7 linked regions of the Homo sapiens genome follow. The protein of the gene in region 6 purifies or fractionates together with the protein of the main gene of each other region. This does not show direct contact. Each region holds a gene or a part of one and is shown on either strand. Other genes may lie near its edges. The genes, in order: CTNNB1, FHL2, PSMC2, XPO1, MRRF, AHR and KLHDC4.

Region 1 (4,238 bases), on a different chromosome or scaffold from region 6:
GAATTTGAGTGGAATGCTTTAAAAGGACAAGTTGGATAGGGCCCCAGTATGGGGGTCTGAGTGATGGGGTCCAGGAATACATTTAGGTCCAATGGCAAGCTGGCTGAAATTCTTGTATAATAAAATAGGTTGGTAATATGGCTCTTCTCAGACATGTGATCAAGATTCCTTGACTAACAAGATATATATATATATCTTTCTAGCTCATCATACTGGCTAGTGGTGGACCCCAAGCTTTAGTAAATATAATGAGGACCTATACTTACGAAAAACTACTGTGGACCACAAGCAGAGTGCTGAAGGTGCTATCTGTCTGCTCTAGTAATAAGCCGGCTATTGTAGAAGCTGGTAAGTATATGTATCTATTCTGAGTCTTGTGTATAGCATCTGCAGTTCTAATTAGATTACTTTTCTTAGGAAAAGGTGGTAGAACTTTAACTACTGAAAATAAATGGTCCTATTCAGTTTGCAGCCAAGATTTACATTCAGAGTACCTGTCATCTGGATTGTAGCTAAATATTTAAGGCTAGTTTAGGTAGAGTTCTTATTATCCATCAAAAATGATGGCATATGTTTTGCTTAATAAAATTTGTTTGTAATTTCAGTTTTGAGTAAACCTAAGATTTGCTAACAGAGCTGTGAATTTATAGGAGAAAAGACAAATTCTAATATAGTACAGTTTTATGTAAAGTGATTGCTTTATTAGTAGATGCTCATGAGCAGTTTTTGTTTTGTTTTAACTTTTAGGTTCCGGGTAATGTGCAGGCTTGTTATATAGGTAAATTGCATGTCACAGGGGTTTCGTGTGCAGATTATTTTGTCACCCAGGCAGTAAGTATTGTACCCAATAGGTAGTTTTTCAGTTCTTTACCTCCCACCCGTAAGTAGGCCCCAGTGTCTGTTGTTCCCTTCTTTGTGCCCGTGTGTACTCAGTGTTTACCTCCCACTTATAAGTGAGAACATGTGGTATTTGGTTTTCTATTCCTATGTTAGTTTGCTTAGGATAATGGCCTCCAGCTCCATCCATGTTGCTGAGGAAGACATCTTGGTATTTTTTTATGGCTGCTTAGTATTCCATAGTATATATGTACCACATTTTCTTTATCTAGTCTACCATTGATGGGCATTTAGGTTAATTCCATATCTTTGCTATTGTGAATAATGCTGCAGTGAACATATGCATGCATGTGTCTTTATGGTAAAAAGATTTCTTTTTCTTTGGGCATATACCTAATAATAGGATTGCTGGATTGAATGGTAATTCTGTCAGGTTTTTTGAGAAATCACCAAATTGCTTTCCACAATGGCTGAACTAATTTACTTTCCCACCAGCAGTGTATAAGCATTCTCTTTTCTCAGCAACCTCACCAGCATCTGTCATTTTTTGACTTTTTATTAGTAGCCATTCTAACTGGTGTGAGACGGTATCTCATTGTGGTTTTGATTTGCATTTCTCTAATGATCAGTGATGTCGAGCTTTTCTTCATATGTTTCTTGGCCACTTGTATGTCTTCTTTTGAAAAGTGTCTGTTCATGTCCTTTGCCCACTTTTTAATGGGGTTGTTCTTTTTTGCTTGTTAATTTAAGTTTATTGTAAACTCTGGATATTAGACCTTTGTCAGATGCATAGTTTGCCAGTACTTTCTCCCATGCCAGTACTTTCTCCCATTCTGTAGGTTGTCTGTTTACTCTGTTGATTTCTTTTGCTGCGCAGAAGCTCTTTATACTGTCCCATTTGTCAGTTTTTGTTTTTGTTGCAACTTCTCTTGGCATCTTCGTCATGAAATCTTTGCCAGGTCTTATGTCCAGAATGGTATTTCCTAGGTTATCTTGCAGAGTTTTTACAGTTTTAAGTTTTATATTTAAGTCTTTAATCCATTCTGAGTTGATTTTTGTACATCATGTAAGGATGGGGTGCAGTTTCAATCTTGGATGTGGCTAGCCAGTTATCCCAGCACCATTTATTGAATAGGGAGTCCTTTCCCCATTGCTTGTTTTTGTTTACTTGTTAGGTGTGCGGCCTAACTTCTGGGCTTTCTTTTCTGTTCCATTGGTCTCTGTGTCTGTTTGTATACCAGTACCATGCTGTGATTGTAACCTTGTATTAACAGTATAGCTTGAAGTTGGGTAAAGTGATTCCTCCAGTTTTGTTCTTTTTGCTTAGGATTGCCTTGGCTATTCAGGCTCTTTTTTGGGTTCATATGAATTTTTAAATAGTTTTTTTTTAATTATGTGAAGAATGCCATTGGTAGTTTGGTAGGAATAGCATTGAATCTGTGAATTGCTTTGGGCTGTATGGCCATTTTAACAATATTGATTCTTCCTGCCATGAAATAGAATGTTTTTTCATTTGTTGGTGTCATCTCTGATTTCTTTGAGCAGTGTTTTTTGTAATTCTCATTGTAGAGATCTTTCACCTCCCTGGTTAGTTGTATTCCTAGGTATTTTATTCTTTTTGTGGCTTTGGTAAATGGGATTGCATTCTTGATTTGGCTTGCAGCTTGGATGTTGTTGGTGTCTAGAAATGCTTCTGACTTTTGTACATTGATTTTTATATCCTGAAACTTTGCTGAAGTTTATTGGATCAAGGAGCTTTTGGGCAGAGATTATGGGGTTTTCTAGGTATAGAATCATATTGTTTGCAAACAGACTTCCTATTTGGATGCATTTTCTTTCTCTTGCCTGATTATGAGCAGTGTTTTGCCCTGATATTCTGTATTCTCAGTGAATAGATGTCGTCTAAGTATGAGAAACAATTTTTTTCTATTCTGAGTATTTTTAAGAAGGCAACTTATATGTGGTACTTTGTATATTGTGTATGTTGGCAATTGGGGAAAAGAATAGATGGTTTGTACTAGGGCCTCTTGGGTTCTGTGTGTGTGTGTGTGTGTGTGTGTGTGTGTCATGAAAACAGTTACTTTTTAGCTACCAAGCATTTTTTCTCCTTTCAGTAACCCACCTAACAACATTTACTCAGAATTTCAAAGCAAGCTTCAAATCAGTATTGAAAGAAGGAAAAATATAAAGGCATTTAATGGAAGAAAATGTTGGGAATAAAGTATAGGGCTGGCAACACTTACTTTTCTCACTTATTGAGAGTAATTTTACTTGGGAATTTATGAGAGAGAAAGACATTATGATTGCTCCAGGTAACTACTGGCAGAGGAACCATAGTCTTGGGGATAGACAAATGTGGCTGAGTTCATATAGAATGAGGGGATGGGATGTAAATTCTGTCAGCTGTTCCAGCAGTAACCTGTAATGTAGGCTAAAAATACAGATTTTGAGATTTATTTAATCAGAATCCCTGGAGTGTTAATTTTTATATCAAGATCTCATAGTGTTTTATTTGAAGTGACAGGGAGGTCTGTAGATAGCTGGACATGTATGGGACTGGAAGCTTAGGAATCTTTAAGTTCTTCCAGGTTATTCTTATGTTCATTTGTTTATTCTGAAAATAGCATCTAATGTATTTTAAGAAATGGAATAGGCACATAGTATACATTGGGTAACACAACAGATAGGGTCCCCGTGCTTAATTCTTAGTCTTGTGAAGGTGACAAAAATACTTAAAAATATGTGATCCTAAATTAGAATGAGTGTTATGGGAGAAATGACAGCAAATAGTGATGAGAATTAATGGGGAGGGGAATTGTCTAGATGAGAGGGAAAAGGTCTCCTTGAAAAGGGGATGTTAAGTGGGACTGCAGGATGAGAGGGAACCGTCTCTTGTCTATATGAGAAGTGAGGGTTAAACGTTTTCCAGGTAGAGAAAAGGAACACCATGTGCTATGTCTTAGAACCAGGGATATCCAGTCTTTTGGCTTCCCTGGGCCACATTGGAAGAAGAATAATTGTCTTGGGCTACACACCAAATACACTAATGATAGCTGATGAGCTAAAACAAAAAAAAATTGCAAAAGAATCTCATAATGTTTAAGAAAGTTTACGAATTTGTGTTGGGCTACATTCAGAGCTGTCCTAGGCCATGTGGCCCATGGGCTGCAGGTTGGACAAGCTTGCCTTAGAAGGAAAGAGATTGGTCAGGCACGGTGGCTCACGCCTGTAATTCCAGCACTTTGGGAGGCTGAGGTGGGCGGATCATGAGGTCAGGAGATCGAGACCAGCCTGGCTAACACAGTGAAACCCCATCTCTACTAAAAATACAAAAAGTTAGCCGGGCGTGGTGGCAGGCGCCTGTAGTCCCAGCTACTTGGGAGGCTGAGGCAGGAGAATGG
Region 2 (4,238 bases), on a different chromosome or scaffold from region 6:
TGGTTTTATGCACTGACAGGCCAAGTTCGTGCACTGACAGGCCCTTCTCATGAAATCCATCCAGACAGCTTTGCTTCTGATCCTAGGACCCTGCTTGATTAAATTCCCTTCACAGACAGATTTTTGTCTTTTAGGAGGAAATCCAAATAAATACGCGTTTTCAGTGCTCGTTACAAACTCTGTGGACAAATTCTACACGGAAGAAGATCCAAGAAGGTAATTTGCTCATTGAGAACTTAAAAACCACCCCAACAAATAAAAAAGCACCAGGTTGGCAGGCTGGACCCTGAGAATGTGACTGGAGTAGGTGCTCTTCCCAGAAAAGGGTCCAGAAAGACCAGCGAGGGAGGCCTGTGTTACACCGAGGACAGAAGGGTGGGTTTTTCAAACCTGACCTTACACCTTTCACTAGGCTTGGTCAGAAACCTTCCAAAATATACTAGGGGCATCTAGATTTAACCTGTATGTGTGAAAACCTTCGTCTCCTATTTCAGAGCCCTGCCAGGTTGCTTTCTGCCAAAATATCACTGAACATTTCTGTCCATTACCAAACATTAACTGAGACTTTTACAGCCAATTTGATCATCACTTCAATGTTTCCTATTAGCTACAAAAGCTGGAAAGAGAGTTTGTGAAACAACTTGAGCCTCAATTCTGCAATGTAATCATCACCATCTAAAGGGGCCCATGAGAAGAGTAGGGGCCTCTGACTGAAGGTCACTTGATTGAGGCCAGGTGGTCACCATCTCTTACTCATAAGGACTGACCACATCTGGCCCGAGAGTCACATAGACAGGGTCCTGCCCGAGGCTGCAGGTAGCAGGTGGCATCACATGCTAGGTGAGGACCCTCCGGGTCTGGGCTCAAATTGTACCTCGGATACTTCCTAATCCCTTTAACCCTTGGCAAGATCCTCATCCTCTCTAGGCCTCAGCGGCTACTCCATAAAATGGAATGAAAAAAGTTCCTACCTATAGGGTGTTAGGAGAAATTTAGATCATGCAGTTTAGGCATTTACAAGTGCCTGGAACAAGTCATCAGGCAATACACAGTGGTTTCAAAGACTACCACTAGAAACTAAACCCTGAATGCTAGTTTCTGATCTGCAGATCTTTTGTTCTTGTTTATTATTTTTTTTTTCTCTTTGTAGCACCCTCCAAGCACATGGGTGGGTATGGTGGCCAGTCCAATTTCATGGCATTGCTTGCAGACCCATGGAACATTCAAAGTCTAGGTTACGTGTGTCGCCCAGGGCTTAAAATCACCAATTTGTTAAATGCACAGTATTAGCAGCTGTCTCTGGAGTTATTGGCCAGCCTATTTTTTATTTTTATTTTTTTAAGATGGAGTCTTGCTCTGTCACCCAGGCTGGAGTACAGTGGCGCAATCTTGGCTCACTGCAACCTCTACCTTCCAGGTTCAAATGATTCTCCTGCCTCAGCCTCCCAAGTAGCTGGGATTACAGGTGCACGCCACCACACCCAGCTTATTTTTGTATTTTTAGTAGAGACGGGGTTTCGCCATGTTGGCCAGGCTGGTCTCCAGCTCCTGGCCTCAAGTGTTCCACCTGCCTCGGCCTCCCAAAGTGCTGGAATTACAGGCGTGGGCCACTGTGCCCAGCCCTATTTTTTCTTTAGTTGGTTGAATTTTTGAAGCCCAGAACGTAGGCAGATCCCCCAAAAACTCTGTAATCAGTCTACGAAAATATTTTGTTAATGCTAACAGGTATCCAAGAAAAGGTTCAGGAAGCATGTAATGTCAGAGGATCATAAAATTGTATTAGCATTGTCTATTCTCCACTATTACACTGGCCATACAAATCAATAATCTTTACCCTTTGAGATCACAGCATTTTCCCAGAGTAACTTAATAGAAATAAAGATTACAATTCAGTGGCTACATAGAGAGGATGTTCAAACTATATAACAGGCTCTGAAGTCTTGCCTGTCTCATTTAAGTAGGTCAGGACTCTCAAAATTAGCCTAATTCCCATAGGCATGCCAACATTTAAAACTCACACACATGAACATGTCCTTTAGAGGGAAGTAGCTGAGGCCTGTGGTGGCTGTGCTATTTTAAGAGAAGAGATTGGCCACCAGACCTAAGAGCACAGTTCCTCTATCAGGTATCTCCCCGCCTGCCAGGATTGTGGGCTTTACTTCCAGAAAAAAACAGGAACATTTTTTTCTATCATTGCTTCCACTACAAACCCAACTACCCGATTATTTTTGAAAGTCAAGAAAAGCACGCCTAAAGCATCAAAAGCCCCAAATGCCAAGGTCTCGCTTCAACTCAATGTCTCTTTTTGTTCCAAAATGTACAAAATCATACAGTGTAACCCCACGTATCTCAAAACATTAATCCGGGTTGAAAAGTTCAGCACAATTCACTCCTGGCTTGACAGCAGCCTTGATGATTTTGGCTCCATTTGGGAGACTCTTGTTTATTTGCTCATAAAACATGCGTGGAAGGATGACGGCTTTTAAGGGTCTTTCCACTAAATCACTGGAGAAACAGCAAGTGATTTTTGTTTTGTTTTTATTTCAGCCACTGGTCAGGGATGATTAGCCCCAAATATCCAAAATCTGTCCTTGAAAGTGAGACTTACCTTTTGCCAGATGATATCTGAACCTCTCACCTACGTAAGTATTTCTTTTCCAGCTAAAGCTTTTATAATTATATTTTTCTCGGGCTATCTACTTCTTCCTCAAACTGGACATTTTTATTGATGTTTCCAAAATGAAAAGCGACAAAGAGAGAGGGTGAAGCTTCTGAAAGGTGTGTGGAAGGGACGTGTCACGAAAAGAATAAGGAAGTAGTCAGCAGAAAGGTGGCAGTCTGGAGCTTACCCTGTCAGCTGCTAGAAGAGTACGAGTGCGAGTGCAAGGGCTTGTATCTACATACTAGAAAGACCCTATGAAGCAGACCCCTGGTTCTCCCCAGTTTTTTTTGGGTCTTTTTTGAGACAGAGTCTTACTCTGTGTCCCAGGCTGGAGTGCAGTGGCATGATCTCGGCTCACTGTAACTTCTGCCTCCCAGGTTCAAGTGATTCTCGTGCCTCAGCCTCTCAAGTAGCTGGGATTACAGATATGCACCACCACGCCCAGCTAATTTTTGTATTTTCAGTAGACACAGGGTTTCGCCATGTTGGCCAGGCTGGTCTCGAACTCCCGGCCTCAATTGATTCACCCGCCTTGGCCTCCCAAAGTGCTGGGATTATAGGCTTTGAGCCTATGCCCCTGGCCTGGTTCTCCCCATTTTATAGATGTGGAGATGTGCACGGAAGGGTCAAGTAACTGACCCAAGGCCACACAGCAAGTGAGACACAGAGCCTGGGCTGGAACTGGGCAGTCTGGTGGCTGAGCTCTCATGCTTGTCCTGTTAAATACATGAAAAGGGACAGAGAAAAGTCGTCAGGTGCAGTGAGACACGCAGCAGGCAAGACAGGATACAGGAAGATACACAACTTTTAGAGTAGCCAGATCAGCTATTTTTGCTTATGGTATTTCAAAGGTTTGGCACAATACCACTGTTGAGTTTCGTTTCTTTTACATTCAGCACAGCATCTGCCCTGAAGCCAAAAGACACAGGGCTGCAGCATTGGTTTAGGGGGCTGGTGCTGTACCTCTTTCGTCTCTGCTCAAGGCAGAGGTCTCTTTCGCTACAAGATGGAAACCATCCCTCAACTGTCACTAAATCCCTGGGAACAGAAAGTGATGGTGCAGCCTTCTGATTCCTGTCTTTCCTAAGAATGATGTGATCAGAGAAGGAAATAGAAGGAACACATGTTGGATGTGCTAGAATGATCCAACTGCATGCATGGCCTAAGTCAATCAGTCAGCGGCAATGTGCTGATATTAACGACCAGGGAGGAGAGCAGCAAAAATCCCTACAGAGCACAAAGCAACGAGAGCAGAAAAGAGATAGTAAAATGCCATGAACTGACTTGGTGCCCATTCAGTTGGGAATTCCTTTAGAGATGCCAAAGGAATCCCATTTTGTAGCCAGTTTCACGGCACTCAGGATGACAGCCACATGAGGGGTTTCACTGGAGTGTTTTAGAAGCCGTTTGCGGGTGAAGGTATCAGAGAGTTCAGAGCTATGGATGGGTCCCCCAGGGTGTCCTTCAGCAATCCAGGTTGGAACAAGAGTCTGCTGAGAAGCGCAGGTCAGGGTTCACCACCCTCAACCACGGGGCAGTTGGTACAAGTGACCAGTGGTCTTTGCTGAACCACGCT
Region 3 (3,364 bases), about 86 Mb from region 6:
GTGAATCTTAAATATGTGGGTCCGACCCTAAAAATGAGAAAATTGACAAATATTAAAATGGAAAAAAATCACAGGAAGAAAAAACTTCAAAAATCCCTTTCCTAAAATGAAATGGTTTTCTTACCTCTAGATCGGGCAAGCTAAATTCAATTTTTCTATCCAATCTCCCTGGCCTCATCAGTGCTGGATCCAAAGTATCAGGTCTGTTAGTGGCCATCAGCACTTTAATATTGCCTCTAGGATCAAAACCATCAAGCTGATTGATCAGTTCCAACATTGTTCTCTGCACTTCATTGTCACCTCCAGCACCATCATCAAAACGAGCCCCTGAGAAGACAAAAGGAAAGATAAGCTCTTCAAGTCCACTCAAGAGTAGCACTATGCATGACCTGAAAGTACCAAAAATCTCAGCTCAAATCATGTCCTCAGGCACAAGTGACATCCCACTTTGAAGCAAATCCTGTAAGAACAGCTTGCTTTATATAAAACTAATTAGAAAGTGAATCTTTGCTTTCAAAAGTATTCATCACAGATTTACTTAACGTTTTTTAAACTGCCTATGGGGCAGTTTAGTGTTTTCAAAGTCTACCACATTTATTACTTAATTTGGACCTCTCAAAAACTCATGAAGTACACAAGACAACAATTATTCCCTTTATAAGATGAGCAAACTGAGGCTCAGAGATTAGTTAAAATAACTTGTCCTCAGGAGTTCGAGACCAGCCTGGCCAACATGGTGAAACCACGTCTCTACTAAAAATACAAAAATTAGCCAGGCATGGTGGTAGGCATCTGTAATTGCAGCTACTCAGGAGGCTGAGACATGAGAATTGCTTGAACCCAGGAGGCAGAGGTTGCAGTGAGCCAAGATCATGCCACTGAACTCCAACCTGAGCAACAGAGTGAGACTGTTTCTTAAAACAAAAAAAAAAGTCTAGATTTCATGGCTAATACTGTATTTCATCAAATCTGTGAAGCCAACAAGAACATTATTTTATGTGCACTAAGAAAAACCACCATCAATTAAATTATGCCCCAGTGCTTTCTTATGACATTAGATGATACTTCTCAATTTACGAGTTGTTTAAAGTATGGAAATAGGTGTTGTATGAATGAAATCAGATATAGACTGAGCATCCCAAATTTGCAAATGCAAAATCCAAAATGCTTCAAAATTTGAAAGTTTGAGCACCAACATGACAAAAGCAATACTCATTGGAGCACTTTAGATTTCAGGTTTTCAGATTTGGGATACTCAATCAGTATAATGCAAGTACTTCAAAAGCCAAAATCCAAAATATGTGAATTCCAAAACACTTCTCAAACATTTCGGCTAAGGGATATTCAACCCATAGCACAAAAATAAAGGCTTTGAAAAAATGACAATGGTATATAATGTGTCTTCTTGCCTTTATAGTTTAGCACTACTACTTATTAGATCTGTGGCGCCACTGTTTCAGAGCTCATAGAAGAGTTGGAGTTAAAATTCTGTACAAGATTAACATATCACGACATATCACTTTACAGCTTTCATGAAACTGAATCCTAAAGCAGTTCTCTAACGTATCATTCTCACCTCCAATAGCATCAATTTCATCAAAGAAGATAAGGCAGGCTTTTTTTGTTCTGGCCATTTCAAAGAGTTCACGAACCATTCGAGCCCCCTAATGAGAAAAATGATTTATTAATTCAAAATTGGTTTCAAAATATTTTAAAATAAGTAAAAAGTTATGCTTCAAACTTTTCAATATTTATTCCTAACAGTATTCTCACCCATTATTACCTAAACGTTTTTTATTTTTTTATTTTTTTGAGATGGAGTCTTCCTCTGTCGCCCAGGCTGGAGTGCAGTGGTGCGAGCTCGGCTCACTGCAACCTCTGCCGCCTGGGTTCAAGCGATTCCCCTACCTCAGCCTCCCGGGTAGCTGGGATTACAGGCATGTGTCACCACACCCCGCTAATTTTTGTATTTTTAGTAGAGACGGGGTTTCAGCATCTTGGCCAGGCTGGCATTGAACTCCTGACCTCATGTTCCACCCGTCTCAGCCTCCCAAAGTGCTGGGATTACAGACGTGAGCCACTGCGCGCAGCTATTTTAATTTTATTTTTTGAGACAGAGTTTCACTCTTGTTGCCCAGGCTGGTGTGCAATGGCACGATCTTGGCTCAGTGCAACCTTCGCCTTCTGGGTTCAAGCGATTCTCATGCCTCGGCCTCCCGAGGAGCTGGGATTACAGACATGCGCCACCACACCCGGCTTTTTCTATTTTCAATGGAGACGGGGTTTCTCCATGTTGGTCAGGCTGGTTTCCAACTCCTGACCTTAGGTGATCCGCCTGCCTCTGCCTCCCAAAGTGCTAGGATTACAGGCATGAGCCACCGTGCCTGGCCTATCTAAACTTTTTTTAAAAAAGACTGAAGTTTGCTCCCCAGTCCACCAAATTAATCTTGCCAGCCTTAAAATATTAAGTCATTTTCATGATTCTGTATCTATTAAATAGCAATAGGTTTCAGATCTGAAGAGGTCAAATTAATAGTTAAATAAAGGAACCATTCTAATTAGTAAAACTTGAGTAAATAAAAGCATCTGATCTATCACTTGGAATTCCTGATCATTGAATTTGACTTGCAAGTTTTAGTTAGGGAATAAAAGGATACCTCAACTCACGCAGCTCCGTAGCTAATTCTTATTGTAAATATACGAATCATCAACAGGTTTCAGATACAATACATATAGCCCTAGACTTATTCTCTAAATATATATATATATATATATATATATGTATGTCTACAAACATAAAAACAACCTATGTTCTCACTTTCTCATTAGGACTGAAAACACTGCCCCTGAAGTAAAAGTATACTTTTTAATTAATTTACCAGGCATTTCCGTAGAAAAGCCACATCTGTAGAAAATGTCACCCTTTTGAGGAGGGGGCATACTGGTTAAAATTTTAAGTGGTTGCCTATCTCCAAATGACCACAAAGGCAGCTTCTAAACTACTAATTACAATCAAGAAATTTCAGGTCTCAGGCCGGGCGTGGTGGTTCTTGCCTATACTACCAGCACTCTGGGAGGCCAAAGCAGATGGATCACTTGAGCCCAGGAGTTTGAGACCAGCTGGGCCACATGGTAAAACCCCTCTCTACAAAAAATAGAAAAATTAGCTGGGTGTGGTGGCATGTAGCCATGGTCTCAGCTACCTGAGAGGCTGAGATGGGAGGATCGCCTAAGCCCAGAGAGGTAGAGACTGCAGTGAGCTGAGATCATGTCACTGCACTCCAGCCTGGGCAACACAATGAGACTCTGTCTCAACAAAAGAAAAAAGAAATTTCAGGTCTGGATCCCTCAATGCAGAAGTGCC
Region 4 (4,238 bases), on a different chromosome or scaffold from region 6:
AGACCTGTGCTTCCAATATTACATTCAGAGTTGAACCCAACCTTACTTTCATAGCTTCCTCCAAAAGCAGCTGCTTTCTATGCATCCATGCTAGAAGAAATGAAGCTTAAAGCTTCATGTTGAATGTATAGCATGAGTAACAACTAAATGACAGGGATAATAAATACGGATGGTTAATTTTTTCAAGAATGCTTTAGGAGATAATATACTGATCAAAACGCCCTAAAAGTATAAACCTGGGCTAACAAGCTTACAGAATCACTGCAAGAGTAATTTTTTCTACTTTTAGCGTTTCCATGGACCTTTTTCAAGTTTCTACTATAGTAAAAGCAGTACTGTTGCATTTCATAAGGGAATGGAAACATTTATACATGATGCTTTTTGGACTACTATAAAAGATAGTACTGTATCCACCTTATATATTTTCAGAAAGTGTAATGGCACTCAGGTTTAGGTTTTTTTATTTTATTTTATTTATTTATTTTTATTTTTGAGACGAAGTCTCATGCCGTTGCCCAGGCTGGAGTGCAGTGGCGCAACCTCGGCTCACTGCAAGCTCCGCCTCCCGGGTTCACGCCATTCTCCTGCCTCAGCCTCCCGAGTAGCTGGGACTACAGGCGCCCGCCACCACGCCTGGCTAATTTTTTGTGTTTTTAGTAGAGACGGGGTTTCACCGTGTTAGCCAGGATGGTCTCGATCTCCTGACCTCGTCATCCGCCGGCGTCGGCCTCTCAAAGTGCTGGGATTACAGGCGTGAGCCACCGCGCCCGGCCGGCACTCAGTTTCTTAATTATGCAAATATAAATATCTTGACAATATAAGTAACCTCCCATCTACTAGCTGAACATTTATCTAACCAGAAATCTACTGTTCTGGCAACAAAACTACCATAAAAGATTTCTGGCCAGGCGCGGTGGCTCATGCCTGTCATCTCCACACTTTGGGAGGCCAAGGCAGGCGGATCACGAGGTCAGGAGATGGAGACCATCCTGGCCAATATGATGAAACCCATCTCTACTAAAATACAAAAAATTAGCTGGGCATGGTGGCGCGTCTGTAGTCCCAGCTACTCGGGAGGCTAAGGCAGGTGAATTGCTTGAAAACCTGGGAGGCAGAGGTTGCAGTGAGCCGAGACTGTGCCACTGCACTCAGGCCTGGTGACAGAGCAAGACTCCATCTGAAAAAAAAAAAAGATTTCTGACCCAACTGCAAAACTTTTTACTCATTCAAAAACATGTTTGGGCCAGCACGCGGTGGCTCATGCCTGTAATCCCAGCACTTTGGGAGGCCGAGTCAGGTGGATCACCTGAGGTCAGGAGTTCCAAGACCAGCCTGGCCAACACGGTGAAACCCCATCTCTACTAAAAATACAAAAATTAGCCAGGCATGGTGGCGTGTGCCTGTAATCCCAGCTACCAGGGAGGCTGAGGCAAGACAATCGCTTGAACCCAGGAGGCAGGGGTTGCAGTGAGCTGAGATAGCGCCACTGCACTCCTGCCTGGACCACAGAGCGAGACTGTCTCAAAAAAAAGTTTGGCCCCACAGGTAAAAAATCAAGTTTTTTTTCTTGTGACATATACAATTTAAAATTGTACACACATTTCTGTTTCACCTTTTAGTTGGGTTCAAAAAAACCAAAAATCTTAAACTGATCAAAATTTGGTTTATGTTTAAGATAATTCCCTACATTAACAGTACCACTTTGAAAAGTGCACAAAATTCAACTAACATAAAAATACTTGGTATTCCTGTTTTTATTTAAACAAACATATCTGTGAAGTACTTCTGTAAATGTTTTAAAAGTAGAAGAATCGTATTAGTGCCAAACATATTAAGTATATATAAAAGTACAGAGAACCTTTAATACCTACAAAGTATTTAATAACATTTGGCTCTTAAGGACAAAACAAGTATAATATTCCAAAACAACCCACTCTAACCATGTCAAACATGCAATTTCTTTCTCCAAACCAATTTTCATTATGGTTAATACAGAATTCCAAATTAATGCAAACTATGGAATATCTTTTTTAAAGGTGATAATTTAAAATTTTATTCTAAACCCAACAACTCTGTTACACTGTCATAATGTTATAAAGTTTTGGTTGGCTACTTTACCTGGGCTCCTTCTCCATGGTATAAGCAATTCACCACATTATCTAATAAGTTGATATCCAGTTTTTGGCTGAAATCAAGCAGCTGACGAGCTGCATGGTCTGCTAACATTGTCATAATTGCTGGCATAGATTACTGAAAATAAAGAAAAAAAATTGAAGCTGCCTATCAAGTTTTGGTATTATCAAAAACTTCCTACAAGTTATTTTACTTCAACCATGTTATTACAAATATTTTAATGAATACTTTAGAGACTTTAATTACAGAAAACTGAGATAGTAAAAGCAAGTAACAAAAGCTGAAATTACTTAGCTATTTGATAATTACATAAATTATTATGGTCCATTCAACTTTTCTAGTGTTTAGTTTATACACCAGGAAGACTTTCCTATTCTACTAACATTTATAAAGTATGCTAACCTATTATTTAAACGCATCCACTATTAGGATTTTATGGTCCTAAAACGTGATACAGTTCAGTATCTTGATGTCAAAACTTTTTAAGCAAGTAGGATTAAGTTCAAGTGAATGTGATTTTCTTTTCTTCCCAAGTAGGGTCTTCTGAATAACTCAGTAAAAGCTCACTTCACATTATCTTAACTTTATAAAAATAATGCTATAAAGACAGAATGGGCCGAGCGTGGTGGCTCACACCTGTAATCCCAGCACTTTGGGAGGCCGAGGTGGGCGAATCACTTGAGGTCAGGAGTTCCAGACCAGCCTGGCCAACATGGCAAAACCCCGTCTCTACTAAAAATACAAAAATCAGCCAGGCATGGAGGCGGGCACCTGTAATCCCAGCTACTTGGGAAGCTGAGGCAGGAGAACTGCTTGAACCCAGGAGACGGAGTTTGCAGTAAGCCGAGATGCACCACCACACTCTAGCCTGGGCAAGAGAATGAGACTCCATCTCAAAAACAAACAAACAAAGACAGAATGATGTTAAAAATTAAAATGTGGATATACAGTAATTCCTATTGTCTACAGCAATGGTTAGCAGGAACCACAAGTCTAACATATCTTGGTATAAATGCCCTTAGCCTCTACAGAAATAACTTAGCTTCTACACTCAAACCATTCAAATTGTTTCAACCCTCAATGAATTGGGGGATTGAAATAAAGCTACAAACATATTTACTGAATATATGATCTAGGAAAAAAAACTTTATGGGCAATATGCCTAACAAGATTTTTTAAATTCCAGGTATTCATTGGCAAGGTAAAAGCTGTAAAAGCTTGCCCATTCCCAAATAAAAAAGAATTCTAACAGAAAAATGAGCTACTTCGCCTAAATATGCACTGGTTAAAACCTACTAGTTCATATGCAGTGCTATCCTTTTAAGAGGATTCTACTCTAAGATGCTGGCACACATCCACTTTTTTGTTGCCCAGAATTATAAAATATATCTTTCCTCTGCTTTTCTTCAAAGCCAATGCCACTCAAACCTAATTGGTTAAGTCAGTAGTCCTTAACCTTTTTGGGGGTCTAAGATGCCTGAGACTCTGAGGAACCAATAGCTCTAACCCAGTTTTTAAAAACTCACGATTTTGTATACAATTATAGAGGATTCAGGACATCCTGAAAGCCATCCATGGCACTCCCAGTTTAGTGTATTTAGAACTAACAAGGTCAGATCTCCACTTCTTCCCATTTTAGGAACTTTCGTGGACCAGAAAATGAGTAGCTAATTTCTTTACATTATATTTAGACAAACTAGCTTGGCAGGGCGGAAAAAAAGTCATTAATTCCTGGCTATTTTATAACAGCTTAAAAATGTCCATAACAATAATGGCAGCAAATTCTATTTTAATGCAATTGTCTTATTTAAATATAACGTCTGTTACAACAGATTAGAACTCCAAAAGATGAGTCACCTATGATTGATATGATGTAAAAATAATGTAAAACTCAAGAAATTAGGAGTTCAAGAATTGGTCCATTATTGACAAAACTGATGAGACTTCAAAACGTTTCGTAGTAGGCATTAAACAAACGTTTTTAAACAGCAGAATACTTGTTACACACCACAAAAAAACCTTAAGATCTAAATACTGAGAGGAAATATATATTCCACAAATGAATGTGTAAACTCTCCTCCACCTTCAAGTACCATAAAATTTAA
Region 5 (4,238 bases), on a different chromosome or scaffold from region 6:
TTTCACCACATTGCCCAGACTGATCTTGAACTCCTGGGCTCAAGTGATCCACCCGCCTCGGCCTCCCAAAGTGCTGGAATTATGAGCATGAGCCACCATGCCTAACCACATGCGGAATCTACAAAAAAGATGAATACACACAGAGAATAAAATAATACTTAGCAGGGGTCAGCGGGGTGGGGTGGTGGTGGTGGTGAGGAAATGGAGAGATATAAATCAAAGGATACAAAGTAGTAGATATGTAGGATGAACAAGTCTGGAGATCTAATGTACAATAGGAGGACTATAGTTAGTAATATTGTATTATACTCTGGATTTTTTGCTAAGACAGATTTTATGTGCTTTCGCAAAAAAAAAAAAAAGGAGGTAACTATGTAAGATAATGGATATGTTAATTTGCATGTATGTAACCATATCACTGCATGTATATCAAAGCATCATGTTTATAATAAAATTTTTCAAAGAAAAAAAGAAAACAGGAAAGACCAAAAATTAATGAACTAATTGTCCAACTCAGAGGATAGAAACAGAACAAGTACACAGGAGAAAGTAAATAATAAAGAACAGAAATCATAAAATTGCAAAAAAGAGAGATCAAAAAATTAAAGACTCTTTTAAAAGGTTTATAACTTCTGTCAAGAACAATTAAGAAAAGAAGAAAGTAGATGCAGATAAATAATATTAAGAAAGAAAAAATGGACATGACTATAAAAATAGTAGAAATCTTAATAAGAGACTATTATGAACAACTTTATATCAACAACTTTGAAAGGTCAAAAAAATGAAAAATTTCCTAAAATATATAACTTACTAAATCAAGAGAAAAATCTAAGCAGTCTCATAATCATTAAAGGAACCAATTCTATGATTTAAAGTCTACCTACACACACACACACACACACACACACACACACACACACACACCAGATTCATATTACTTTACAGGCAAGTTCTATCAAACACGCAAGGGGCCGGGTTTTGCCATGTTGGCCAGGCAGGTCTCCAACTACTGACCTCAAGTGATCCACCCACCTTGGCCTCCCAAAGTCCTGGGATTACAGACGTGAGCCATCGTGCCTGGCCTAAATCTTTTTCCTTTATAAATTACCCAGTCTCAGGTTTTTCTTCATAGCAGCATGAGAACAGACTAACACAGTCTATGTGTCTGTTTTTATGCCCATACCATGCTGTTTTGGTTACTATAGCTCTGTGGTATAATTTGAAGTCAGGTAATATGATTTCTCCACATACATAACTCTTAAGGTTAACATATAAGAAGTGTTTCCTATAAAGTCAGGACTAAAACAAAGATGCCTATTATCACCAGTCACATTTATTCAAATTACACTAGAGTTCCTAGCCAATCCAATGACAGTGAGGGGAGGAGAGGAGAAGGGAGGGCAATAGGACAGGAGGGGAGAAGAATGGAAAGGGACATATGTGCACCACAACACATGTACAAGAATGCTTATACTAGCATTATTTGTTTTAGCTCAAAACTGGAAACAACCCAAATGTCTGTTAACTGTAGGATGGATATTAAATTGTGGTATATACTTTCAGTAGAATATCATTAAAAAAATAAAAATGCACAAACAACCATTATGTGCACAACATGGACATATCTCACAAATAGATTATTACCACAGAAGTCAGACACAAAATCCATACTGACGTCACAAAGGACAAAACTAATCTGTGGTGTTAAAGTCAATATAGTGGGTTATCTATCCTTACAGTGAGACAGTAACAACTCAAAGGGACATGTGGTAAGTTTGGAAAACACAAGTGACAGTCTATTTATTGATTTGGGTAATAAGTACATGATTGTGTTCACTTTGTGAAAATTCACTGAAGCACAAACTTATGATTTACGTAAACACTTTTCCTTATATATAACTCAAAAAACTAATACATATAAAAGTGACAAAAAAAAAAGATAGGATTCCCCCAGAAATAAACCTGATTAAAGAACTGATTAAATAACTGTACAAGATCTTTTTTTTTTTTTTTTTTTGAGACAGGGTCTCACTGTCCCCCAGGCTGGAGTGGCAGTGGCATCATCATGGCTCACTGTAGCCTTGACCTACTGGGCTCAAGCAATGCTCCCACTTCAGCCTCCCAAGTAGCTGGGACCACAGGGGTGCACCACCACACCTGGCTAATTTTTGTAGAGACAGGGCTTCCCCATGTTGCCCAGGCTGGTCGGAACTCCTGAGCTCAAGCAATCCAACCACCTTGGCCTCCCAAAGTGCTGGGATTATAGGCGTGGGCCACCACTCCTGGCCTTGTGCAAGAGCTGTCTGGAGAAAACTTGACACTATGATCATAAATTTCATATAGAAAAGGAGAAAGTCAAGAACAAAAAGAAAAGCATATGTGTGGTGAGGGGAAAGATCTGTACCAGTAAATTGGACTTTATGACACTAAGTCAGGCAGTATGAAATTTACTGAAGGGAGAGATAAGCAGTTCAATAAAATCAACAGCTCAGACACAATGCCATATATATACAGAAACTCACACAATGGGGCGGGGCATTACAAATCTGGGAGTAAAGAGTAGGCTAATCAATAAATGATTTTGACACAACTTCTTATCCATCTGGAAAGGAAACTTTAAAAATTACCTCACATTATATTCAGAAATAAATTACCTTGCAATAGACGGGTATTTCTTAAAGAAGACACAATTAATAAAGGACTAAAAAATATGACATTAAAACCCATGTTCAACAAAAACATCATAAAGTAAAAAGCAAAGAAGACACTTGGAACATATGGACAAAGAATGAGCATCCCTAATATGAAAGAATCGAATAAATCTAAAAGAAAAAGTCAAACAACCAACTTCTGCAGCCTCAAACTCCTCACCTCAAGCCATCCTTCCACTTCAGCCTCCTGAGTAGCTGGGATTACAGGTACAGGCCACCAGGCCCAGCAATTTTTTTTTTTTTTTAAGAGGCAAGGTCTCATTATATTGCCCAGGCTAATCTCAAACTCCTGGCCTCAAGCAATCCCCTCACCTCAGCCTCCTGAGTAGCTGGGATTACAGGTGTGAGCCACAGCACTCGGCTAAACCAACTTTTAAAGAGGCAATCAAAGAAGACAAAACTGAATAGCCCACAAAATATGAAAAAATGCTGCTTATGCACTGTAACTGTCTATTACACTAGAAGACTGCAGTACTGTAGGCATCAGGAACTCAAGTTTCTGGTTCTGCCATTAACTATATAGGAACATGGGCAAATTTCTCACAAACTATCTCAGTTTCTTCGTTTATAAAATGGTGAGATCTGGATTAACTAGATAATTATAAGGATTTCTTCAATGGAAAATTATAATTCCTTCAATGGATAATTATAAGAATAAAATTAGTAAATGTATAGAAACTTTAAAAAATATAATGCTACATACAGATCAAAGGTTATTACTATTAACACTATTAACAGAATATAACTCTTCTAAGCATTACTGTTCTTCCAGTAATTTGTTAATTTTCCTATTACAGAAAGGGGAAGGTCTGCATGAAATTAGAAAAGGAAAGTCAGTGGGAAAATATTCAGCAGCATATATCTAGCGCCATTCTTGGGGGAGGACTCCCTGATCCACCACTGCAAATTGCTGGTGTGACTGACAATTTTCTATCACTCATTCTTTCATTCAACAAAATTTGTCAATACATACTAAATCCAGGCCCTGTTAGGTGCTAAATAAGAACAATATAGAACCTACCTTCATCAGGTCCAGCATAGAAGACAGATAAACGATAATCAATCTTACATTTAATTAATTAATCACTGCTGTTCTAAGTGCATCAAAGGCAAAATAACAGAATGCACGAGTGCAGGCAACAGGGGACTTGACCTAGTCTAAGAGGTCAGGAAAGGCTTCCCAGAGGAAGTAGCATTTAAGCTGAGACCTGCAGTACATCAGAGTCTCATTCCTGGATGACACAAGCCATTAAGATCATCCATCTAAATCCATGGCTCTAATACCCACTTCACCCAACCACCTTCTGGTCTTAATTATACTTCCAACATGCATCTTCCTATAAGGAGACAATATATTGATCCCTGCTACAAGCATTCTGGCTTGCTTGGCACTTAAACCTTTAATTCTAAATCTAAAAGAAAGAAATTAGGCATTTTCTGAGCTACCAAGAAAACAAATGAGGCAGCATGGTAATGAGAAAACAGGCACTGGGTTATAACACCATCTCTGCCACTGTAACCTTTTAA
Region 6 (4,238 bases):
ATGATTTTCACCTGAGAATAAAGACACTTATGGGTCAAAGAGGAACATGAGTTCAGAAAAGAAAAGTTGAATAACTTCACACAAAGACCCCAGCCAGGATTTCACAGCAGACATTAATCACTTAAAGTGAATTTAAAAATCATCAGATACCCACGCTGAACTGGGAAACTAAAGTAATTTATACCTTATACCTCTATACCTTCCTGTTAGCCAGAAGAGTAATTATCTAGCGTTTTCTTACAACAAAGACATTTTTGACAATTCAAATGGAATTATATCAGCTTTTGTAAAGTAGAAATTGGCCTGGGCATAGTGCTATTAATATGACCCAATCAAAACATTTCTAGATAATTTCTTTTCAGTGATGTATGTGGAGAAGTAATACTTTAGGCAGAAAGAAGATGAAAAGTAAATACTTCTACAAAAAAGGTAATACATCGGTAAAATGATGTGTGTGTGTGTGTGTGTGTGTGTGTGTGTTTATGTATGTATCAACAGATACCTTCTCCAGGTTGTCTGTACAACTGTGTATATAATAGAAATTGGTGATGGTTCCCCTAGCTATTTTCCCCTAATCATATTGCATTTATAAACAAATTTCAAGTCACACCTAATTACTTCACTTCTCCACTTAACCAACTGAATTTCAAACTTTACCTATAATGCTTGTCTACCTCATTGTGTAATTCTCTACTGGTTAATTAATAACTTGCTGACAAGTATTTATTTATATCCATCACATCCTGTACAGCCCAGGTAAACACTTTTCTCCTAACTATTCAAAAAGTGTTATGGGAGCTAAGCAGAAGCAGCAACTGCTTGAAAAAAGATTTTACAGAAAAGGTGGTATCTGAGATGGATCTTGAGTGAGGGACAGGATTTCATGAAGAGGCATAACTAAGGATTAGTGAACTGTAAGAATTCCCCCACATGAAGGGAGAGGCACAGGGTGAAAGAGAGAAAAGAAGAAGGATGGTTGGGGCCACATTCTTTCAACAAATGCTGAACACCTATCAAGTGCCCAGCACAGAACACTTACAGGTAAACAAAATATACAAAAGCTCCTGTTGTCATGGAGCTTACATCCTAGGTGGAGGATGGAGAAATAAACAAATAAACATATAACTTTTAGGGCGGTGAGTGCTAAGAAGAAAAATAAAGCAAGGTAAGAAACTAAGGGGTGACAGACGTGATGCTGGTTTGGACAGCCTAGGAAGGTCTCTCTGATGTGATGTTTCAGGACAGACATGAGTAAAATGAAGTGAGCTATGTGGGTGTCTGATGCAAAAATGTTCAAGATAGAGGAGACAGCAAAGTAACGATAGAAATCGGACTTAGGCATCTGTTCTTAAGTGTTGAGCTGAGATTTACAAGATCAGCCTGTGTTTCACCAAGCTGACTCTGGTGATAGAGTATACAGAAAGCAGGGCAGGGTTCGCTGAAGTTAGGATTCCGGGATGCCAGGAACTTCTTTCTAAAACATAAATCTGACTGTGTCACTCCTCTGATTAAACTCCTTCAGTAGCTCTGAACTGTCCATGTTCCTTAGCTTAGCACACAAAATCCTTCATGATCTTTCTAGCTTCATTTACCCCTCTGGCTTCATTTCTTCTATTGAAGCCGCTTTTGTCTATTCTACCCCAGAGCTAAGAAATTACTTACAGTTACAACATGTGGTTTAGTGCTTTCATACAACCTCCTTGTTATGTCCCATTGGTTTCAAGTCCCCGCTCAAGTAGATCACTTTCATGAAGTCCTCCCTGACCTACCTCACAATGGATTAGCAACTCTGCCCCATTTGACTTCTTATACAAATGTCTAATATAATGATTCCATTAAGGAATATTCCATACAAACAACTTCACAGAAATAGAAAGTGTGTACACAATCCAGTCCTGCACTCTTGGTGGCTTTCCAGTAATGATTATGAAACACTGGAGAGAAGAGAGTGACACAAACGCTGAAACAAGGCAACATGCTATGACACAGGGAGAACTAATAGTAACATAAAGGTATCCCTCCATGTGGTACTGCTGCCTGTCTTGTGCTGGCTCTTTGCAATATTCAGCCTCACACTAGATTCTGAGGCTTGCTTTTCATAATGCAAAATTGTCTACATTTCTAATGCATTACTATGTGTCTTACAAAATATTTAACATGAGAGCAAATTTCCATTGTCAAGTAACATAATTGCTTATACTTGTTTGCCTAACACCCTTATTTCTATGTAAGCTTAAATCATTTTTGTATCCTTAATGCCCAGCATAATAGAGTGGATTCTCAATTAATGTTTGCTGACCAAAAGTGCCAAGAAAAGGAATGATCACAACCTGACCAAAGGCAGTGACAGTGAGGTTAAGAAAGGACTGGCTTGAAGAGAGATTTAAGCCAGACTCAAATGTTCACTGAACTAAACTAACTCACTATAGGAAGTAAGGAAGAGGAAACCATTGAGTGAGGAGAGGTTGCAAATGGTTCTGCGATTTGTAGCTCAGAAGAACAACTACATTTCCTAATGAGAGCTGTACCAGAAAAGGAAAAAAGTGGCTTGAGGATAGACCTCAGTAATACCAACATTTAGGTATAGGGCTATGGAAGAGGCATAGACACAGAGAAGAAATGATAGACGGAAAAAAACCAGGGTAGAATATTTTGGAGGTCATAGAAGAAAGTCAAATACACAGAGGAAGAAAGTCAAATACACAGAGGAATTAAGGTCAGGGCTAAGAAGTACCCTCAGAACTTAACAATTCAGATGTACTGGATTTGAAGCTTTTAAAATGTCAGATTGTTAAAGCTAACAAAGGTAATGCATTTGACCCACTTTTTCACTGATTTTGTGAGAAATGTACAGATTTTGTTAAAATATTTAATATCTATCCATACATCTTGAAGATATACAGAACAATTAAAAATAGAGTAATCTTACATTAACTGCACTTGACTTGGATTACGCTAATATTTTTACTTTTGTATTGTCTTCGAATCTTTAAGAAAGGACACTGCTAACCATTATTTAAGGAAAAGCCTGTTTGAAATATAAATAAACATCCCTGTAAGATTGGATTTGGGAGCTCTGGAGTTCAAACATCTCCTGAAATAGACCGTATGATGTTGGTCAGGCAAAGGAGTAACTTATTATTTTTTGAAACCTTTACCTCAAAAATCTTGTCCCAATCTGTAAAATTGTTATGAAATCAAGACTCCAGCTGACTGCATGCCATGCTTCTGTTTAGAAGCCCTGCAAGCTTTAACTGCTGGTGGTAACAGGCCCAACAGTATGCCCAATGCCAGTCTGAATGCTATCTTGAAAGCCTTTTTAACATCTCCATCAAAAAAGTCTATGAGGTTCATCATTTGTAGCCAGTGTTTGAAGCAAAGCTGAAAAAATTAACCAAGTTTACTCATAAATATAACTGTTTTATATAATATTCATTATAAAACCTCAAAATGACATGCAAAGATATGGTTTCAGTAATCCTATGAGATCAAAGTGACGTTTTTTAACAAGAGATTGCCTCTCACAGTACTGAGTTTGCTCTATCGGATTTTTCCTCGGGGTGATTTAATCTACTCTTACTGCGTTGGTCTACTTACCCATAACTTGTTTATCTTTATTTCCAGTCCCTGTACCTGACCCTGTGCCCTTCCATTCAACATTCCCCTGGAGTTGGGCACCCGCTTCTCAGCACTATGGTGCTACTCTCCATCTAACAGCTAGGAAATCTGAAGTATTCCTCAATAAAATCCCCCTACCATACTACCTACACCCAATAAAGCCCAACTCTTAACCCCATTCATTCTTCATTTCCTTCCCCCAGCTTCAGTGCATCCGTATTTATCTCTGAATATAAATTTCAAATATTTACAATCATAAACTATGTGCTTAATGTAATGGAGGTGACACATAGCACAAATAGACCCCAACTTCATTGTCAGGCTGAACACAGCTGGATATTTTATTTCCCTATATGAGTCAAAAACATCTACAAAAACTTCTGAGAATTCTGGCTGGAAGCCACTTTTAATGAGTCAGAAGTCTTCTGCCACCCTCCTGCTGCTGCCCTATAATTGTGATGAGTTCTTTCCTTTCCCTTTTGTTTGCTATACCTGAGGAGAGATGATGAGATATAAACAGCATAGTTTCTAGCACAAGACATTAGCAGGGAAGATCAGGAAAATGAAATATGGCCTAGAAACCACTACTAGTTCCATAATCCTGGAAAACTCATTGTTTC
Region 7 (4,874 bases), on a different chromosome or scaffold from region 6:
AATTGAGTACCCTTTCAGGGTGCTATCATTAGCTCTAGCCTACCTATGAAGAAACAAAAGTCCTCCATGTTAGGACATTTGAGGACATGCCCTTAGTACCTAACAGTGTCTGGCACATTTTAAATGGGAAGGTGGAAGGGCCCCCCCATTTTTTTTTTTTTTTAAGATGGAATTTTGCTCTTTTGCCCAAGCTGGAGTGAAGTGGCTTGATCTCAGCTCATTGCAACCTCTGCCCCCTGGGTTCAAGCAATTCTCCTGCCTCAGCCTCCCAAGTAGCTGGGATTACAGGTGCCCACCACCACGCCTGGCTAATTTTTGTAGTTTTAGTAGAGACGGGGGTTTCACCATGTTGGCTAGGCTGGTCTCGAACTCCTGACCTCGTGATCCACTCACCTCGGCCTCCCAAAGTGCTGGGATTACAGGCGTGAGCCACCGCGCCCGGCAGGGACTGTCTTACTCAGGATCTGCAAAATCTTATAACTGTGTGAAATTTTTTTTCTGGGAAAAAAGCACTCATTTGTTTGGTCTGAGGGGAAAAAATGGGGCTAGCCCAAGAGTCGCCCACTTAGTTCTACCCAGGGCGAAGCAATGTGCCTTAACGGGGGGCACGTGCACCCCGGAAAACTCAAGAGAAAATGAGCCGGGCGTGGTGGGCTCCTGTGGTCCCAGCTACTCCAGAGGCGGAGGTTACAGCGAGCCGAGATCGCGCTACCGCACTCCAGCCTGGGCGACAGAGCAAGACCCTGCCTCAAAAAAATAGAAATAAAAAATAAAACTCAGAGGGCACGTCTCCTAGGACACGGGGACAGGCTAGGTGGGGGCACAGGGCGTGAGAATTGGCGAGCATGGCCGGGGTATGTCAGGCCGGGGCTGCCATCTTTTTTGTTTTTTGAAACAGGATCTCGCTCTGTCGCCCAGGTTGGGGTGCAGGGGCGCATTGCTGCCTGGAACTCCTTGACTCAAGCGATCTTCCCGCCTCACCTTCCCGAGGAGCTAGGACCACTGGGCGCGAGACACCACGCCCGGTTAATTTTTTTTTTTTTCTTCTGTAGCGACTGGGGGTGGGGGGTGGTGTCTCGCTTTGTTGCCCAGGCTGATCTCGAACTCCTGGACTCAAGCGATCCGCCCGCCAAGGCCTCCCAAAGCTCCAGGGTTACAGGCATGAGCCACCGCGCCCAGCCCGGGGCCGGTCATCTTTTCCGGGGCCTTATGCAGAGTCCGAGGCCCCCGAGCCCGCTGCCGAAGACGGAGCTCCAAGACCGAACCTCGTAAAGGGCCCAGCCGCACCTCTACCCGGAAGCGGCTCGAACTCGGGGCCGGAAGTGACTCCATTTCTGTGCGCCGAGCTCCGCCCCACGAGCACCTGTTTCCGAGCGGAGAGCGCGGGCCGTTTTCTTTCCTGGTGTCCCGTCGCGGCTTGGGACCCGGCAAGATGGGCAAGAAGGGCAAGAAGGAGAAGAAGGGCCGCGGCGCGGAGAAGACGGCCGCCAAGATGGAGAAGAAGGTGTCTAAGCGCTCGCGGAAGGAGGAGGTGAGCGGGTCAGACCGGGCTTAGCGGCCCGACGTCGCGGCCGTGCAGCCTCGGCCGACTCCCTGCGCCCCCCGGGGTTACGGGTCGGCCGTGGGAGCCGCGCCGGCCCTGCGGGAGAGCTGGAGGCCGTAGGAACTGCCCCGGCGCCGCGTCCGGGCAGCCCAGACGGGGCCCGCCCCCTCCTGAGTCTCCACGTGTGTCTGTCCGCTTCTCGGAGCTGCCCCCTTTAACGTGCTTGCTTTTCTTAGTGTGGTGTCACGGGCGTTTTTCTGCGTTTCCTCCCCCTCCTCCCTTCTCCCTCCACCCTCCCTCTGAAGGGAGGCTGGGTGGTGAGAAGAGGGAGGGGTTTGGCACAGGAAGACCTGAGGTTGAGCCGGGGGCTGCCTCTGCATGATGTGTGGTCTGGGAGTAAGACTCTTAACTTTTCTGAACCTTACTTTTCTTTCAAAAGAGGGCAAATAATCATCACAGCAGCCCTGAGCAGTGAGCAGCAGATGGTTAAGTGAAGAAGGCACTGGAGCCACGGGGTATCCCGTAGCAGCTGATGGCGGCCATCACGGTTGTCTCCTTCCCTCTGGTCCTCAGCCCGGGGTCTGCAGGAGGATCCGTCCTGACCTTGGGGTTGAGTGTTCTGCGGCTGCTGCTCATGGATTCCCTAACCGGGGCCAGTTTTATGGCCTGCCGTGCGCCAGGCACAGCTCCCTGGGCTTTACTCCTCACGAGCAGGTCAGTTCCGTAGCACTGGTATTCCCATTTGACAGGAAGACCAACAGGTGAACCATGAAGTGGTATGGAACTGGGATGTGACCAGATGTCCTGAATCAGGAGCTCTTGACCACAGTCCTTTGTCCCTTTTCTTCCTAAGTCATTGATCTCTCCATGTCCTCATCTCTTAAATAATGGAGTTGGACTTTTCCCTCACACTCCTCTTAGGCTCTTTCTTTTTTTTTTTTTTTTTTTTGACAGAGTCTTGCTCTGTCACCTAGGCTGGGCTGCAGTGGCATGACCTGCTGGCTAGGGTTGTGGCACAGGAAGTCAGTTCATCTGTGTGGTATCTTCAGAATGGTGCTTGGCAGAAAGTAAGCACTCAGTAACCAGCTGTTAGCTGCTTTCTGCTTTTTTTTTTTTTTTTTTTTTTTTTTTTTGAAGGAGTTTCACTCTTGTTGCCCAGGGTGGAGTGCAATGGTGCGATCTCAGCTCACTGCACCTCCGCCTCCCAGGTTCAAGTGGTTCTCCTGCCTCAGCCTCCCAAGTAGCTGAGATTACAGGCATGCACCACCACACCCAGCTAATTTTGTATTTTTAATAGAGACCGGGTTTCACCGTTTTGGTCAGGCTGGTCTGGGACTCCTGACCTCAGGTGATGCGCTCGCCTCGGCCTCCCAAAGTGCTGGGATTACAAGCCGTAAGCCACCTTGCCCCGCCAGTTACCTGTCATTTTTACTCATCTCCATGTCTCCCTCCAGTACCCAATACTAAGGTGATTGTAACAGTAGCTTCCCTTAAGAGAGAGAGCCTGTCAGGCCTGGGGTTTGTATGTTATCTGAATGAACCCTCAAAACAAACTTTTAAAATAAGTGGGCGTCTGATTAGGCTAGACCCACAGAGGATCATCTCTTTCTTAAATTCAGCTGTGTCTGTAATACAACCTAATCACAAGAGTGGTATCCCATTCTTTCACAGTCCTGGCAATTATTGGGGGAAGGATTGGGGACAGTTTGGAATTCTGCTCCCACAGAACTCATGTATCAGGTCACCTGGTTCGCACCTTCACTTAGTCCTGGCCTCTGCCTGTCTTTCCAGCTGTCTCCCTGGGCTCACTCCAGCCACAGTGTCTTTTAGTGTCTCAAACATGGCAAGTTGTGTCTGTGGTCTTACCTATACCCCAACCATACTCCGTCTGAGTCGTCTTTTCAGCATTCAGCTTATTGTCACTTTGGAGAGGCTGTCACTGGCTAGGCCACTGGCGTCACCCAGACCCTACCACCTTGCTCTCCTTCAGTCACCCAATGATGATGAGGTTCAGCCAAGGTCAAAGACCGCTCTAAGTAGCAGCAGCAAAGCTTTCGCGGTACATAGACGTTAGTATTTGAACTGTTTGTTTAACCTCGTTGAGCAAAAAAAGCAAGTTGAAAGAATATACAGTATGATACCATTTAATGACATTTTATTTTTTATTTTTTTTGAGATGGAGTCCTGCTCTGTCACCCAGAGCAAGTGTCGCAGTGGCATGATCTCAGCTCATTGCAACCTCTGCCTCCCAGGCTCAAGCAATTCTCCTGCCTCAGCCTCCCGAGTAGTTTGGGACTACAGGTGTGCGCCACTGTGGCCGGCTAATTTTTGTATTTTTTAGTAGAGACGGGGTTTCACCGTGTTGGTCAGGCTGGTCTCGAACTCCTGACCTCAAATTATCCACCTGCCTCGGCCTCCCAAAGTTCGGGGATTACAGGCGTGAGCCACTGTGCCCAGTCCATTTAATGACATTTAAAAATGTAAAACAATACTATATGTTGCTTAGGGATACACATGTGTAATAAAAGATTGAAGAAAAGCGTGAGACTAATAAGCATCGAGTTCCAGATAGTGGTTACTTGAGGGAATGTGTGGGTGGGTACATGTGGGTGACACTTTATTCCTTACCCTGGGAACCGTATACAGGAATGTCTTGGATAAAGTTCTGTTAACTTGTGTGTTTTAAATATTGCATCGTTTAGAATACTAAGCAGTGTACCCTGCTGACATTCACCCTGAGATGAGAGGTAGACTGAAGGAAGCACGAGGTGGGGCGTGGCAGGCTGAGGGAACCTGGCGTTTTCATTGAAGGAACGGAGAGGACGCTGGTGTATCTTGGAGAGTGAGGCCAGGTGGGAGGTGAGGTTGGAGAGGTGGGTGTGGGGGAGGGAAGATGGTCTGCAGGTGTGTGTAGTTGCAAGCAGGACACTGAAGGCTAGAAGGAACTTGAAATGCCAGGCTCGGGTGTGCATGGGAGTGTCTCGTAAATGTTGGGAAATGGGCACTGGGACTGAGGCGGGAACACTGGGTTCCAGTGCTGCCCTCTGTGCTGGCACATCAGTACCTTGAGTCACTCTCGATGGTAGTAAAAGTTGAGACCTTCTTACTTGGATAGACTGCAGCTGGTATTTGCTGAGCTCTTGCTGTGCAGGCAGTGTTTTAACTAGACACAAGTCTTGCTCTGGTGGAGCTCATATTTTATTATTTTGTTGGGGTGGAGGAAACAAATAAGCAAGAGAAATATATCAGACACTGCTCAGCAGACAGGAAGGCAGGCAGGCGTGACGGCCCAGGCCTGGGCTCTGAGAGGTGCTGAGGGTGTCTGCAGTGA

Evidence for each region.
Region 1: the proteins of AHR (region 6) and CTNNB1 purify together in Homo sapiens (affinity purification with western blotting; 4 studies listed by BioGRID and IntAct, with this or other methods). This does not show direct contact.
Region 2: the proteins of AHR (region 6) and FHL2 purify together in Homo sapiens (affinity purification with western blotting, with the first as the bait; one study listed by BioGRID). This does not show direct contact.
Region 3: the proteins of AHR (region 6) and PSMC2 purify together in Homo sapiens (affinity purification with mass spectrometry, with the first as the bait; one large-scale study listed by BioGRID). This does not show direct contact.
Region 4: the proteins of AHR (region 6) and XPO1 purify together in Homo sapiens (affinity purification with western blotting; 2 studies listed by BioGRID, with this or other methods). This does not show direct contact.
Region 5: the proteins of AHR (region 6) and MRRF purify together in Homo sapiens (affinity purification with mass spectrometry; one large-scale study listed by BioGRID and IntAct). This does not show direct contact.
Region 7: the proteins of AHR (region 6) and KLHDC4 purify together in Homo sapiens (affinity purification with mass spectrometry; one large-scale study listed by BioGRID and IntAct). This does not show direct contact.

Annotation. Positions count from the first base shown.
Region 1 is NC_000003.12:41,227,005-41,231,242, forward strand, and holds part of CTNNB1 (catenin beta-1), read left to right. Parts: intron 1-203; coding exon 204-348; intron 349-4,238. UniProt on the Homo sapiens protein: Key downstream component of the canonical Wnt signaling pathway.
Region 2 is NC_000002.12:105,381,564-105,385,801, forward strand, and holds part of FHL2 (four and a half LIM domains protein 2), read right to left. Parts: exon of another isoform or gene 2,548-4,238; intron 217-2,547; exon of another isoform or gene 135-216; intron 1-134. UniProt on the Homo sapiens protein: May function as a molecular transmitter linking various signaling pathways to transcriptional regulation. Negatively regulates the transcriptional repressor E4F1 and may function in cell growth.
Region 3 is NC_000007.14:103,364,376-103,367,739, reverse strand, and holds part of PSMC2 (26S proteasome regulatory subunit 7), read right to left. Parts: intron 1,665-3,364; coding exon 1,577-1,664; intron 328-1,576; coding exon 125-327; intron 28-124; coding exon 1-27. UniProt on the Homo sapiens protein: Component of the 26S proteasome, a multiprotein complex involved in the ATP-dependent degradation of ubiquitinated proteins.
Region 4 is NC_000002.12:61,531,654-61,535,891, forward strand, and holds part of XPO1 (exportin-1), read right to left. Parts: intron 3,026-4,238; exon of another isoform or gene 2,770-3,025; intron 2,251-2,769; 5' UTR 2,245-2,250; coding exon 2,119-2,244; intron 1-2,118. UniProt on the Homo sapiens protein: Mediates the nuclear export of cellular proteins (cargos) bearing a leucine-rich nuclear export signal (NES) and of RNAs.
Region 5 is NC_000009.12:122,271,220-122,275,457, reverse strand, and holds part of MRRF (ribosome-recycling factor, mitochondrial isoform 1 precursor), read right to left. Parts: intron 1-4,238. UniProt on the Homo sapiens protein: Responsible for the disassembly of ribosomes from messenger RNA at the termination of mitochondrial protein biosynthesis. Acts in collaboration with GFM2. Promotes mitochondrial ribosome recycling by dissolution of intersubunit contacts.
Region 6 is NC_000007.14:17,304,943-17,309,180, reverse strand, and holds part of AHR (aryl hydrocarbon receptor), read right to left. Parts: intron 1-4,238. UniProt on the Homo sapiens protein: Ligand-activated transcription factor that enables cells to adapt to changing conditions by sensing compounds from the environment, diet, microbiome and cellular metabolism, and which plays important roles in development, immunity and cancer.
Region 7 is NC_000016.10:87,762,449-87,767,322, reverse strand, and holds the start of KLHDC4 (kelch domain-containing protein 4), read left to right. Parts: upstream 1-1,336; 5' UTR 1,337-1,432; coding exon 1,433-1,531; intron 1,532-2,036; exon of another isoform or gene 2,037-2,257; intron 2,258-4,874.